Regions from separate parts of the Homo sapiens genome. Here region 1 is linked to region 2. Evidence: fine-mapped expression QTL. Tissue or cell type: CD8 T cells. Region 2 holds a variant in brackets; the other region holds the start of a gene. All regions are shown on one strand. Distances are from middle to middle.

Region 1 (8,093 bases), 470 kb before region 2:
CTGGGTCATTGCTTCTCTCTTGGCCTCTGTCTTGGCAACCAGCGCCCAAGCTTTAGCCTTGGTCTGTGTCACTGCTTCTTTCTTAACTATTTTGCCAGCCTCAGCATCAGTTTGGGTCACTGCTTCTTTCATGGCCACTTCCCTGGCTTTGGCCTTGACCTCAGTCAGAGTCACTGCCTCTGTCATGACCAGTGTTCCAGCCACCACTTTGGACTCAGATTGAGTCTCTGGCTCTGCCCCAACCATTGCCTTGGCCTGAGAGTTGGCTCTGTGTATGGCTATAGCAGTGGCCTTGGTCTCTACTTCAGCCCTAGGCCCACTTCTTGCTCCAGTTTCTGCTCCAATCTCGACTTGGGGTTTAGTCTTAATCTCTGCTTCATTTATGGCCAAGGTCTGGCTCTGTACCCCAACCACAGTCTCCATCTTAACTGTGGATCCATTTCTGGCAAGAGTCCTCACACTCTGGGCTCTTCCCTTGGTAAATTTGTAAATGTAGTAGCAGGTGCCAGCCCAGATCACCAGTCCTGCAGTCACCCAGCCCACTTCCTGAATGCGGCCCATGTAATCACCCCTGCTAAAAGCACGAACAAGGTATGGTAGAGCGCACTCGGGCTGGGGTAAAGAGAGTGGTAGTTGTGGGTGTAGGCCTGTGAGGGTGCTGGTCTTCAGCCACTCAAAGGCCACTACAGCTGCCTCTGGAGGTGGACCTAGAAGTGGAGGAAGGAAATGGACTAAAATTTCTCTTCTGATTTTGTTGCATCATACAGATAGATACACAGAGGAACAGAAAATGGTAGAACCATGTGCTTGGTGGAAGAGAGGATGATTAGCAGCCTCTCCATTCCTCTTATTTCATCTTCTCTCCACCTTCCCCAATGCCCAATAATTTTCTTCCAAGATACTTCTATACACATTTCTATACACCAAATGAACAGTGGAAAGGATGGTAGGAGGTCTGACGATAAATGGGAGCAACCAAGAAGTCCCAGACTTTGATTTCTACTGGACCTACTCTGGTCACCTGTCTACAGGGCCCCACCCTCATACCAACCTGTAATGATCCGAGGCAGTTCCCTCCTCTCCTCTTGCTTCTCTTGGCAGTACACCCTAAAGTAGATACATAAATTCATGAGATCTCTGGACCTAGAGACAGACAGACAGATGGAGGGACAGATGGGAGTAGAGAGTTTGTTCTTGATGGGACAGACATATTATTAGCAAACTACCTTTCTACGTTTCTCAGTCCACCCCACTCCCTAAGACACTGTCACACTCTTTTCCCTGTACCAGAATTAAGGTGAGGGTATGGAGTAAATGACAGGGATGGTGGGAAAGGTGGCTGGAAAAGGAGAGACTGAGGATCCTCATCCTCCAGACTGGTCACTGGTCCTTACTGGATGCACACTGGTCTCCACCAACCCACTCTAGAGGTCTACCCAGGCAGTCCCCACACTCTTACCAGTCTATACTGATCAGGAGCAATCTCCTCTTTGTTTCTTTGCTTCCAGTGATCTTAAGCCCTGCAGCAGACATGCAGGCAGATCTATGGACAAGTAAACAAACAGTAGGTAATGGAAACCGAGTCCCTGGTAGAACAGACAAGCAACCTGATCCCTGACCCCAATGTCTGCCTCGCCAGAGCCCAGGTTCTATATACTAATGTGTACCATCTCATGGTCCCCCCATCAAGTCTTCCCCCAGTCATACTCCAGCCCACCCTTACCCCCATATTCCTATCATTTCCTGCACTGAAATCCACAGGAGGCATGGCAGCACTGTGGCAATCCAGCACTCCACTGAGACCCTCTTAAATCTCACCCACCTCCTATGCCCACCCTCTCTTGTCATCCCCAGAGACTACCCCCACTTCACACCAACCTCCATGCTTCTAGATTGATCTCCTCCTCTTTCCCTTGCTTCCAATGGTAAACAGCCCTACTGCAGGCCTATGGGAAGACCTTGGAACAGATGGAGAAAAAGAAGAGAGTGGATGTTAAGTACTTGTGACACTTACCATCTAAGACATAGGTCCCTGTACCTGCCTGCCTGGATTTAGAGACCCATTTGCTGGCAGAAAAAAAAAAAAAAAAAAGCCTGGGGCTTCCCCAGCACTGAAATGGGAAGGATGGAAAAGGGAGGCAGGAAAAGTAAAAGGCAACAGACAGAGGCACGTTATTTTATTTTATTTTATTTTATTTTATTTATTTTATTTTTTATTTATTTTGAGACAGAGCCCCACTCTGTCACCCAGGCTGGATTGCAGTGGCAAGATCATGGCTCACCACAGTCTCGACCTCCCAGGCTCAAAAGATCCTCCCACCTCAGCCTCCCAAGTAGCAGGAACTACAGACTGTGCCACCATACCCAGCTAATTTTTAAATTATATGTAGAGATGAAGTCTCGCTATGTTGCCCAGGCTGGTCTTGAACACCTGAGCTCAAGCAATCCTCTTGCTTGGGTCTCTCAAAGTGCTGGGATTACAGGCAAGAGCTACTAGGCCCAACAAGGCAAATTATTTTAAAACCACCTGTAGGGTTCTAGGGATTTCCCCAAAAGCCCACCATTTCCTTCACCAAGATGGTCAGGTAGGTAGAGGGATCTGGAAAACTGAAGGATGGCAGGAGAGATGGGAGACCCCAGATCCCATACTCTAGAACCACAACCTACTGCTGTCCACGTCCCTTTCAACCTATCTCTAGGAGTCTCCAGCAGAAGAGAAAAGCTATAGGGGAAGCCTTTTGCTTCTACAAAATCACTATCCTTCCCCACCAAAGGCTATCTAAAAAATAATAATAATAATAATATTCTTTAATATAATTTATCTTTTTCTCAATATTATCTGAAATGCAAATAAAAGCATCTGTAGAAAAGTTTGCTGTCTTCATTGGTCTTCAACATACAATTTAAAAGTCCTAAGCTTGGTAAGTAAAATGCAGTTTAGGGAAAGTCCCCAAGCTAGCCCCACCCCACATCCCATTCAGACAGCCGCACCTAAGTTCCTGTCATAGAATTCATATGGAACTCCAATGGTTTAGATAGTGTCTGTACTCACACTAACCTCCTTGATCCAGTGCAGTTTTCTCCTCTCCTTCCTTTCTCCTCGCCGCAAACAGTGCTACACCGAACTACTGTCCGACAGACAGGAGAGAGTAAAACCACTTAGTGTTGGTCTAGAGCCCAGGACATAGATCCCAATACTCGCCTTTCCGGGTTCAGGAACCTGGTTATCAAACGTCCCTCCCCACAGTCTGAGACACCACCCTTACCAACCCCACCGTCCAGTCTCTAAGGCCCACCATTTTCTCTGCAAACGCCACCGTGGCGCATCCCTTCCACTAAATTGAGCAGGAAGCGAGCGGACATGTGTGGCCAGTGATTAGAGCGATGGGCATCTCAATCTCTGTATTTCCCTCTGGCAGAGACAATCTCCCCACAAATCAAAGCCCACGGTTCGCCTGCACAGATGTAGGCGGGGGCAAGGGGGCTAGGGAGAATCAGAGGCAAAGGCTCCTCGAACTTGAGGCAGCATAGACCACCGCCCCCTCAAGCCCCGTAACCGCTGCCGGGGTCAGTGAGCTTCTGCCGGCCTGGCCAGGGCGCGCGGGCCCCAGGGCCCTTACCTGCTCCGCTTTCCCCGGGCCCGATGCCAGCCCGCCGAGCGCAGGGCAGCGGGGAGCTGGTAGCCAGATGCGAGTGACGACTGCAACGAAGGCTGCGTAGCTCTGCAGCTCCGGGTCACGTGAGGACCGCGCGTCACCGCCGAGCTCGCCCTCCTCCCCAGCACCCCCTACCACCCACCAAGGGCCGGCGGCCAGTCACCAGGAACTCCCCCCTCCTCCACTCCGCACGCACAGACATCCCCGTTCTCTGGTCTGTGCTCGGTGCCCCAGTGCGCACGCGTTGTCACTCATCTCCGTCCTCTCCAATCTGAGGGCCCACAAGTGGCATCATCGCCTTGTGGTTGGAGTTTACCCATCTTCAGTTACAGGGGAGGGTCTGCATCCCCCTACCCACTCCCGGCCCTTGGCTGTGGCCTTTTATGTTTCTTCTTTGAGTAATCACTTATTTCTCTCTTAGACTATAAGACCAGCACTCCCCACCCGCCCCCTACACGACCTGCCCTCTCTAAGTACAATGCCTGCACCAAATGGGCTGTGGAAGGGGGTATCAGGAAGGAAAGCAGAAGGTGCAAGTAGAGCTTTAATTTTCTTTTTCGTGTTCCTTTTTTTTCTTTTAATATGACATTCTTTTCTAATATTGTAATCAGAAAATACAGTATAGCCATTTTCATTTGACACAAAAAATATTCAGGGTGTAAAAATAACAAAAGACTCATTCTTTTGTTTACATTATTTTGTGCCACATTTTAAAATGTCTTCTGTTACTGCAAACTATTTTACAGCTTTCAAAATTGACTAGTAATTCTTGACATTTTAAATACAAAATTGTCCTAAACAAAACCAGCACGTATTCAATATGATCTATAAGTTAATCTTTGGAAAGACATTTCGTTTTCTAATATTGACAATTTTACACAGGTGATTTGTAACTTTTGAAGTTCTGGCTGAACTCAGCATCTTTTTTCAGGTGTCTAAGACCTTCTTCAGAGAAGACTTCTAGAGGATATATTTAAGACCCAACTCCTGATGAGCCTAGTGCTTTACTAGTGACTTACCAAATTAACCTGCTTTACTAGTGACTTCCCAAATTAACCTGTTTTCCATTCAAGGGGCTTTATTTGGATTTTACATAAGCATGTAATCAGATCAGCCTCACCACACCCATGGAACAACCAACTGCTAGAGCTTGGATGGAAAGGAGACTTAACAGGTGGAATTTTCATCCGTCGTAACACTTGAGATCTCGCCGGTGTCTGCCATTCATGTACTACATACTACCCTAGCAGTGGCGAGTGTTCAATATTTTCCAGTGGAGATGGTGGTGAGGGTCTGTGGATGACTGTGAATCACTGCAACACACCTGATGTCCGTGTCATTATTTTTTTCCCTCACAAGTGGAAGGGCAATGTACAGGATCCCAAGCAATTGCCAAGAAAAAGAAGTTTTTTCATGTCCTGCCTTGTGTTACAACTTCACTGCACCTCCCATACAAGCCCCTCAGAATAATCCCAAAACTCAGGGACCAAATATGCAGAAGTTAGTCCCCACGCATCCACCTGTCCCCGCTGAGGAGTCATACTCCAAATATAGACCCTCCAGGCAGCCTCTTTCTTAGAACATTGAAATAGGACACCCCAGAGGGAGGGGCTCCACTGTGAGGGGCCCCTGTGTGGAGGAGGCCCTTTCAGGAGCCAAGAAAGGAAGTCCTAGTGCCTTACAATCTTACTAATGGCTTTTCAGAACTCAATTGAAAGTGACGAACTTACTTTCTCCACCAAAGGAAAATATTGATAAATTAATTGCATACAAATTTTAAACTTTGGTAAAGTAAAAAAAAAAAACCATAAACATTGACTGTCAAAAGGCTAACTTGTAATAATCTAAAAGCTCTTACAGATCATTAGTAAAATGATAAACAACCCAATAGAAAAATGTGCCAAAAGACATGAACAGATTTGTTCACAGAAAAGAAATAGATTACTAATAAACATATGAAAAGATGCTCAAACAAAGAAATGCAAATCAAAGCAACTATGCCTTACCATGTTTCAAGTATGATTTTCTCAAAGTTTAGAAACTTGATAATATTGTTGACTGGTTTGTCAAGAAATGGGCACTCCTCTACTCTGTTGGAGGCAGATATTGATGCAAGCTTTTTATATAGGGCAATTTGGCAAACTCTATTAAATGATAACTATAATATTTCACAAATTCTTTGACCCAATAATTCTATTCCTTGGAATTTAGCCAACCTATATGCCTACACAGTTTCACAAAGATATATTTACTAGAATTTTTTTTTTTCGCAATGCTTGTAAGGTTTGAAAAAACTGACGCAGCCGGGCACGGTGGCTCACACCTGTAATCCCAGCACTTTGGGAGGCCGAAGCAGGTGGATCACGAGGTCAGGAGTTCAAGACCAGCCTGGCCAACGTGGTGAAACCCCGTTTCTATTAAAAATACAAAAATTAGCCGGGCGCAGTGGCAGGCGCTTATAACCCCAGCTACTTGCAAGGCTGAGTCAGGAGAATGGCTTGAACCCAAGGGATGGAGGTTGCAGTGAGCCTAGATCACGCCACTGCACTCCAGTCTGGCTGACAGAGTGAGACTCTGTCAAAAAAAAAAAAAAAAAAAAAAAAAGCCTGACGCAACATAAAATGGCTATTGATAGGGGAGAGATTAAATAACTCATGTTATATTTATACAATGTGGCTGATGGAGTTAGCTCTGTGTATCCCAGTGGAAAGATAATTGGGGTGTTTTAATATTTGCTGTTTACTTTACATACAAATCCCACAAGAGTACAATTCTAGTATAAAATTCAAACCCAAGGCCAAGTGTGATGGCTCACGCCTATAATCCCAATACTTTGGGAGTCTGAGGCAAGAGCATTACTTGAGGCCAAGAGTTTGAGACCACCCTACATAGGTTTCCCGACATAGGGAAACCTGTCTATTAAAAAAAAAAAATAGCTGGGCTTAGTGGTGCATGCCTGTGGTCCTAGCTACTTGGGAGGCTACTTGGCAAGAAGATTGTTTGAGCTTAGGAATTCAAGGTTACAGTGAACTATGATTGCACCACTGCTCTCCAGACCGGCAATGGCGTGAAACCCTGTCTCTGAAAAGAAAAGAAAAGAAAAGAATAGTCAAACCCAGAAAAAGCACTAGTACCACTTTCACTCCCCTATCCTCACCCAAATCACAGTTACCTCTCCATTTTAAGTTTGGTGTATTAACCTTTTGTATACATGATATACACATACATGTCTTATTAAAATATATAAATGAGATTTTTTTTTATATGGAGTCTTGCTCTTTCACTCAGGCTGGAGTGCAGTGGTGCGATCTTGGCTCACCGCAACCTCCACCTCTCGGGTTCAAGCGATTCTCATGCCTCAGCCTCCCTAGTAGCTGGGATTACAGGTGCGCACCACCATGCCCAGCTAATGTTTGTATTTTTAGTAGAGACTGGGTTTCACCATGTTGGCTAGGCTGGTCTCAAACTCCTGGCCTCAAGTGATCCAACCACCTGGGCCTCTCAAAGTGCTGGGATTACAGGTGTGAGCCACCACGCCTGGCCAGGATCATAATTAACATACTGTTTTGCAACTTGCTTTTTTTTCATTTAAAATTATGTCTCAAAGAGCTCTACATACCAGTACATTTAAAGCTGCTTCATTCTTTTTAACTGCTGCATATTATGAGTTCTGGATCCGGAGCTAATAAAGCAAGGTTACAATGAACAGTCTGGCACATAAAGCTTTGCCAACAGGTAGAAGAATTTCTTTAGGATATTCTACTATAAATATAATTATTTGCTTAAATGTATGAGATTTTATACATTTGATATTGCCAAAAGAAGGATGTGAGATTTTATATAGTTAATGGATATACCACCAAACTGTCCTCCAAAAAGGCTTGGCCAATTTATACCCCCATCAAACATAAGACAGGATCTATTTCCCCACACTCTCATGCACACTGTGTACAAATGTTTCTCAACTTATAATGGGGTCATGTTCAAATAAACTTATAGGTTGAAAATACCATAAATCTAAAATGCATTTAATACATCCAACCTACCAAACATCATAGCCTAGCCTACCTTAAAAATGCTCGGAACACTCACATTAGCTGACAGTTCGGCAAAATCATCTAATGCAAAGCCTATTTTATAATAAAGTGTTGAATATCTCACATAATTTATTGAATACTACATTGAAAGAAAAACAGGATGGTTGTATGAGTACTTGAAGTACAGATTTTACTGAATGTGTATTGCTTTTGCACCACCAATTAAAGTAAAAAAATCATAGGTTGAATTGTCATAAATTGGGGACCGTCTGTATTAGTAATTATTGCCAATATAAGAGTCAACAAAAGATTGTCCTTTTTTTTGTTTTGTTTTGAGATAGGTTCTCACTCTGTTGCCCAGGCTGGAGTGCAGTGATGTAATCACAGCTCACTGCAGCCT
Region 2 (8,094 bases):
GTAAGACCCCATCTCTAAAACAGTAAAAAAAAGAGAGAGAAAGAAAATTCAAATAATACAAAAGAATATAGGGTAAAAATGAGTTTCTTACTCCTGACCCCTAGTCTTTCAGATGTCACCACTCTGAGCAGTTTCTTGTGTGGACTACCAGAGATATTCTGTGACACTACAAGCATGAGTGCATGTGTGTGCACACGTACGTGTGTACATACTAGCTCTCCTTTTTTATCAAACAAGTAGAAGCATACTATAAGCACTATTCTATTTGATGCTTTTTTTTGCGGGGGATGGAGTCTTGCTCTGTTGCCCAGGCTGGAGTACAGTGGTGCAATCACAGTTCCCTGCAGCCTTGACCTCCTGGGCTCAAGCAATCCTTCCACCTCAGCCTCCTAAGTAGCTGGGACTATAGGCGTGAGTCACCACACCAGGCTAATTTTTAAAATTTTGTAGAGTCAGGGTCTTACTATGTTATTCCAGCTGGTCTTAAACTCTGGGGCTCAAGCTATCCTCCCACCTCAGCCTCCCAAAGTGTTGGGCTTATAGGCATGAGCCATTGTGCCTGGCCAGCTTTTTATTATGAATGGGATCTTTTCATGACATTTTCTTTTCTTTTTTTTTTTTTTTTTTTGAGACGGAGTCTCATCTTGCTGGAGTGCAGTGGCATGGTCTCGGCTCACTACAGCCTCCACCTCCCAGGTTCAAGCGATTCTCCTGCCTCAGCCTCCTGAGTAGCTGGTATTACAGGTATGCACCACCACGCCCAGCCAATTTTTGTATTTTTAGTACAGACAGGGTTTCACCATGTTGGCCAGGCTGGTCTTGAACTCCTGACCTCAGGTGATCCAACCGCCTTGGCCTCCCAAAGTATTAGGATTACAGGTGTGAGCCACCGCACCCAGCCTTCATGACATTTTCTCATTAGTTATTGCCAATCTGGTATACAGCTACCTTACTCTATTATTAGTTTTATTCATTTTTTAGTTGATTCTCACATTGTTGTGGTAGCTGACCATATGATCACCATGTAAAAATAATTCTGTCCCTCTCCTTCTAATACTCATTTTTTCCTTTTGCTTATTATATTGCATAAGAAAATGTTCCATTGTAGATGTGATAGTGAATATTTTTGTCATGTATTTGATTATAATGGGATAATGCTATTTAAACTACAGTCTTGTGTCGCATAATAACATTTCAGTCAACAATGGACTGAATATATGATGTTGGTGCCATAAGATTATAATGGAGCTGACCGGGCGCGGTGGCTCACGCCTGTAATCCCAGCACTTCGGGAGGCTGAGGTAGGCGGATCACTTGAGGTCAGGAGTTTGAGACCAGCCTGGCCAACGTGGTAAAAGCCCGTCTCTACTAAAATAGAAAAATTAGCTGGGTGTGGTGGTGGTGTGTGCCTGTAATCCCAGCTATTTGGGAGACTGAGGCAGGAAAATCGCTTGAATCCAGGAGGCGGAGGTTGCAGTGAGACAAGACTGTGCCACTGCACTCCAGCCTGGGTGATAGAGTGAGACTCCGTCTCAAAAAAAAAAAAATAATAAATTTCCAATTTCATCCATGTCCCTACAAAGGACATGAACTCATCATTTTTTATGGCTGCGTAGTATTCCATGGTGTATATGTGCCACATTTTCTTAATCCAGTCTATCATTGTTGGACATTTGGGTTGGTTCCAAGTCTTTGCTATTGTGAATAATGCCGCAATAAACATACGTGTGCATGTGTCTTTATAGCAGCATGATTTATCATCATTCTCAGTAAACTATCGCAAGAACAAAAAACCAAACACCGCATATTCTCACTCATAGGTGGGAACTGAACAATGAGAACACATGGACACAGGAAGGGGACCATCACACTCTGGGGACTGTTGTGGGTTGGGGGGAGGGGGGAGGGATAGCATTGGGAGATATACCTAATGCTAGATGATGAGTTAGTGGGGGCAGCGCACCAGCATGGCACATGTATACATATGTAACTAACCTGCACATTGTGCACATGTACCCTAAAACTTAAAGTATAATAATAATAAATGAAAAAAAAATTATAATGGAGCTGAAAAATTCCTATGGCCTAGTGACATCATAGCTGTTGTAACATTTCAGCACATGGGTTACTTACATGTTTGTGGTCATGCTGGTGTAAACAAACTTACTGTGCTGTCAGTAGGTTTGTTTACACCAGCATCACCACTTATAAAATTAAGTACATATAGTTATCTATAGTACATAATACTGGATAATAAAATGACTGTGTTACTGGTTTATATACTTTCTATACTATACTTGTATTATTTTAGCAGATACTCCTTCTACTTATGTTTTAAAAGTTAACTGTAAAACAGCCTCAGGCAGATCCTTCAGGAGGTATTCCAGAAGAAGGCATTGTTATCATAGGAGATGACAGCTCCATGTATGTTATTGCCCCTGAAGACCTTCTAGTGGGACAAGATTTGGAGGTGCAAAACAGTGATATTGATGATCCTGTCCCAGGCTAGAGTATAGTGGTGTGATCTCAGCTCACTGCAACCTTTATCTCCTGGGCTCAAGACATCCTCCCGCCTCAGCCTCCTGAGTAGCTGGCACTACAGGTGCGAGCCACCATGCCCGGCTAGTTTTTGTGTTTTTTGTAGAGACAGGGTTTTGTCATGTGGCCCCGGCTGGTCTCGAACTTCTGAGCTCAAGCAATCCTCTCACCTCAGCCTCCCAAAGTGCTGGGATTTCAGGCATGAGCCACCATGCCCGGACCTTATTTTATTTATTTTTTATTTTTTGGTAACGACAGAGTCTCGCTATGCTGCCCAGGTTGGTATTGAACTCCTGGTTTCAAGTGATTCTCTGGCCTCAGCCCCCAGAGTAGCTAGAAGTACAGGCATGTACTACCACACCCAACTAATTTTAAAATCAGTTAAAAATTAAAATTAGAATTTTGTAGAGATGGGGTCTCACTATGCTGTCCAGGTTGACCAGTTTTTCTACTATATTTTTACAGTACTTTTTAATGTTTAGATATATAAATACTTACCACTGTGTTACAGTTGTCTACAGTATTCAGTACAGTAACATGCTGTACAGATTTGTAGCTGAGGAGAAATAGGCTATAGCATAGAGCCTAGATGTGTAGTAGGCTCTGTCATCTAGATATTTGTAAGTATGCTCTATTATGTTCACACAGTGAAGAAATTGCCTAACAATGCAATTTTCAGAATGTACCCCCATCGTTAAGTGATGCATGACTGTATTGAATATTACCCAGGCAAACAAATACTCTTCTACTTTGCTGGTTGGGATATAAATTGGTACAACCCTTTTTAGAACAGTTTGGTGGTTATGTATCTTAAGGCCTTATAAACATACAGGCTCTTCAGCTCCATTTACCAAATATGTATTGAACCCTTATTCTGTGCCACATACTGGGAACCCAGAGATGAATATTAAGCAGTGTTTACTTCATTTCTACCCTTAAAAAGATTAAAATTCAGTAAGGAAGATGGTGAAGAAAAACGATTATATTAAATAAGATAAATGCTGTATAAGAGAAACACAGGGGGCCTGTGGGAACACAGTGGAAGGGCCTCTATTTTAGGCAATTGTATTCCTGTGGGTTCTTCCTTTTATTCCTGGGAACTGATGCTATGTTCTGTTTCTACAGGCTGTGCTGTCCTCCAGACCCTGCTAAGAAGCTCTTAGGCGAGCCCTTTGTCCTGCAGCAAGCTGTACCTGTGGATTTGTTCCCTCACACCCCACATTGTGAGCTGGTGCTCCTCTTTACTCGATAAGCAGCCTCCTAGAAGACAGCAGGCTATTTGTTAAGGCTGAAGTTTCAGAAACTTTCAGGTTTGGCATATTGCTACATTGCAGACCCTGGGAGCATTACAGTGGAAACCAATCTTTGGTTTGTGAATAGGAAGAATCTATTAGGCCTCTGGTCTGAGGCAGATTTTTTTTTTGAGATAGAGTCTCACTCTTGCCCAGGCTGGAGTGTCGTGGCGTGATCTCAGCTCACTGCAACCTCCGCCTCCCGGGTTCAAGTGATTCTCGTGCCTCAGCTTCCCCAGTAGCTAGGATTAAAGGTGCGTGCCACCATGCCCGGCTAATTTTTGTATTTTTGGTAGAGACAGGGTTTCACCATGTTGGCCAGGCTGGTCTCAAACTCCTGACCTCAAGTGATCCACCCGCCTCGGCCTCTCAAAGTGCTGGGATTATAGGCGTGAGCCACCACACCCCGCCGCGGCTGACTTAACCTTAGATTTCAGATTCCCTTTCAATCATGCCCGTTTGCTTGGGTTTGACCACTCCCCACTCCTGGATCTGGACTGTTTCTTCCTGTTGCTGTCAGCCTTGGTTCTAGTTTATAGTCTTGTCTCCTCCGTTTCTGCTTATGGTGTGGACAAATGACCTTTTTTAAGCAGCTGGTAATAATTTTACATTGACTGGAGCCTGTGCATTTGCTCAGAGATGCTACAATTTTTAGATATTTCTAAGACTTCTGGATTCTTGAGGTAGTTAAGGATTAAAACCAGAAACAGTCGAGGTTTTTTAAAAGCAGGGTAAGCCATGAAGTGAATACAGGGTGACTGAGTGATCATCAGATGAGATTAATTCTTTTGGGTTTTCTTGGTTTTAAGGCATCTCGAATGCCCCTTGAAAATGTAGTTTTCCCTGGTGGTGGGCACCTGTAATCCCAGCTACTCGGGAGGCTGAGGCAGGATAATTGCTTGAACCTGGGAGGTGGAGGTTGCAGTGAGCTGAAATTGTGCCACTGCACTCCAGCCTGGGTGACAGAGTGAGACACCATCTCAAAAAAAAAAAAA[AAAAG/G]AAAATGTAGTTATCCCTAGGAGCAATAGCACCAATTAACTCTCACCCGTGGAGGAAGAATTGGTTATTGGAGAGACCCTAAGGGAAAGGAGATTTTCAGAGAGACTGAATACCTATAATTGTGCTGTGTAGTGTGGAGGCAAAAAGCTCCAAAATCTAGTATAACATAATAAACTGGATATTGAAAACTGACTGTATTTAACATTCTCTAGTCCATGATTTCATCAACTCTGGAGTTGTTCTTGGGTACTTGCCCAACAATTTAGATTATGTTTTGATAATCTAAAGGCCTAAGGATGTGTAACTTAGTAAGTGTTGTCTGATTCACAAAGTGATATCAGGTTAACTGGTATTTTTAATTCTTCTCAATCAAACATTCTAGAGAAGCCTCCTTCTTAGAAAAATATGGCTGTTAAAGCTACTATATAATGTTTTCTATTCTTTTTTTAGATGGTGGGTCAGGTATAGCCACAAGAGGAGACACAGGAGAGGCTCAGGAAAACAAAGTCTATTATGCTTACAGGTCCTAGAGACAGGAGACATATTATGCCACATAGGACTACATGGGAAAGACACCAGGGTGGGCAGGAGGCAGAAGACAGAAGAGGGGAAGGTTTAGGCCACTGCCGTTACTTGAGTTTCTTTGGGAAAGGCAATGCAGGGCTGAGTGAACAGTTTAGGATTGGCTACTTTGAATAAGGTATAGGGGTGCTCCCTAGTTGTCTGGTACCTGGCCATGGGGTGATTAGGACACTGGAATGTTGTCTCTTGGGGTGTCCATGCCAGATAGAGGGAATATAGCTCTGAATTGGTTAGTTTGTATATCAAAGAAATCTTCCAGCTGAACCCTTGCTATCTATAAGAATTATCTAGCCCAAGGAGGAGCAGCCAGAAAGATTTATTTTATTTTTATTTTTTTGAGATGGATCCTCACTCTGTCACCCAGGATGGAGTACAGTGGCGTGATCTCAGCTCACTGCAACCTCTCCGCCTCCCGGTTCAAGCGATTCCCCTGCCTCAGCCTCCTGAGTAGCTGGGATTACAGGCGCCTGCCACCACACCCAGCTAATTTTTGTATTTTTAGTAGAGATGGGGTTTCACCATGTTGGCCAGACTGGTCTCGAACTCTTGACCTCAGGTGATCCACCTGCCTCGGCCTCCGAAAGTGTTGGTTTATGGTAGTTGCATAAATTTTTTCCTTTCCTTATTTTTAAATTTTATGTGATGGGTTATATTATTTTTATAATGAAATTTTCAAAAAAGCAATTTTTTTCCATTTATTCCCTGTATCAGCAAATGGCAATACCATCTATATCAATCACTTAAGCCAGAAAACAGAGTTCCTTTTCATTCCTGTATCCAACTACCTATAAGGTAACTTCCTCTTGGATATCTTCTAGATTCTTCAAACTCAATATATCTAATGTTGAATGCTTTCCATCTTTCCCTTAAACATGTTCTTCCTCCTCTATTCTCAGTCTTAATGAATATAACAGTTTACTCAGTCACCCAAGCCAGAGTCTGGGAATGATTTTTGAGTCCTTCTCCTGTACTATTGGCCTCATCCAATTTTTCACAAAGTCGCCATCCCTGCAGGCTTCCATCATCTCTCTCCAGGTTATTGCTGCAATAGTCATCTTCACAACTGTTGCTGCTTGTATTCACTCTTGCCCCAGTTCATTCTAGCACCATGGCACACACCTGAAATACCAGCTAGTGGGGAGGCTGAGGCTGGAGGATTGCTTGAACCCAGGAGTTCAAGACCAGCCTGGACAATATAGCAAGACCCTCTTAAGAAAAAATGCAAATCTCATGTTTCTCCATTACTTAAAATCTGTCATTGGCTTCCTGTTGCTTTTATTTTATTTTATTTAGTTAGTAATTTTGAGACACAGTCTCATTCTGTCACCCAGGCTGGAGTGCAGTGGTGCAATCTCAGCTCACTGCAACCTCTGCCTCCTGGGTTCAAGCAATTCTCGTGCCTCAGCCTCCCAAGTAGCTGGGATAACAGGCGTGTGCCATCATGCCTGGCTCATTTTTTTTCTTTTTGTATTTTTAGTAGAGGCAGGGTTTCATCTTGTTGACCAGGCTGGTCTCGAACCGCTGACCTCAAATGATCCACCCACCTTGGCCTCCCAAAGTGCTGGGATTACAGGCATGAGCCACTGCACCCAGCCAACTTCCTATTGCTTTTAAAATAAAGTCCAACATTATTGATGAAGCTCAAAAGCCACTTCATAATCTGAAGAACTCCATTTCTCTAGATATATTGGATTCCTTTCCCTGAAAAGGAGAAAGTTCTTCCCTTTTGGTCCTATTTACATTCTGTTTCCTCAGCTTGGAATATTCTTTTCCCTAACTCTTCTGGTTTACTCTATTTACCTTTCTGTTTTTAACTTAAATATTCCTCCTTCAAGGAATATTTAATGAATAAATACAGGATTGGCTATGGAAAATCAACTTCCTCATAATTTTGTTACTTGTTTATAGTTATGCCCTCAGAGATATTGCAGGTTTGGTTCCAGATTGCCACAACAAAGTGAATATCTCAATAAAGCAAGTAATGTGAATTTTATGGTTTCCCAGTGCATATAAACATTGCTTATACTATAGTCTATTAAGTGTGCAATATCATTATATCTAAAAAACCAGTGTATGTACCTTAATTAAAATGTACTTTATTGCTTTAAAAATGCTAAAAATCATCTGAGTCTTTAGTGAGTCATAATTTTTTTTTTTAAGACAGAGTCTTGCTTTGTTACCCAGGCTGTAGTGCAGTAGCGCCATCATGGCTCACTGCCACCTTGAACTCCGGGGCTCAAGGGATCCTCCTATCGCAGCCTCCCAAGTAGCTGGGACTACACGTGTTTGCTACCATGCCTGGCTATTTTTTAATTTTTTTGTAGTGATAAGATCTCACCATCTTGCTAAGGCTGGTCTCAAACTCCTGGACTCAAGCAATCCTCCCACCTTAGCCTCCCAAAGTGCTGAGATTACAGGCATGAGCCACTGCGCCCGGCCAACTCTTCATCTTTAGATCCCTCATCTGTCTGTATAAGGTATACAGATACATGTATACCTTATACATCTATCTTCTAAGCATAAGGACATTTTTCTACATAACCATTATATTATGAGTTCAACTAAGAAAATTAGCAGTACCTCACTAATCTTCACTAATGTCATCTAATGTAGTTCAGTGCTTCTTGAGGTGTGGTCTGGAGACTGCCTGATGTTTCACAAAAAGATAAGGAGTTTATACCAA

What was found. PIP is the estimated chance that this variant, and not a neighbour inherited with it, causes the effect.
Region 1: it holds the start of ARMCX4, and the variant in region 2 is fine-mapped to the expression of ARMCX4 in CD8 T cells (Kasela 2017, PIP 0.95).

The regions. Positions count from the first base shown.
Region 1 is chrX:101,481,058-101,489,150 of GRCh38, reverse strand. ARMCX4 (armadillo repeat containing X-linked 4) reads right to left here and starts at 3,695. Exons shown (of 6, transcript NM_001256155.3): 1 at 3,621-3,695; 2 at 3,059-3,128; 3 at 1,879-1,958; 4 at 1,460-1,543; 5 at 1,052-1,107; 6 at 1-707. The coding sequence starts at 561.
Region 2 is chrX:101,006,277-101,014,370 of GRCh38, reverse strand. It overlaps TRMT2B (tRNA methyltransferase 2B), which reads left to right. Exons shown (of 14, transcript NM_024917.6): 14 at 3,664-5,021. The coding sequence ends at 3,790. Among named protein-coding and RNA genes, the nearest start is that of ARL13A, 41 kb to the right of the region's middle. The variant AAAAG/G (reference allele first, on the strand shown) is at 4,826.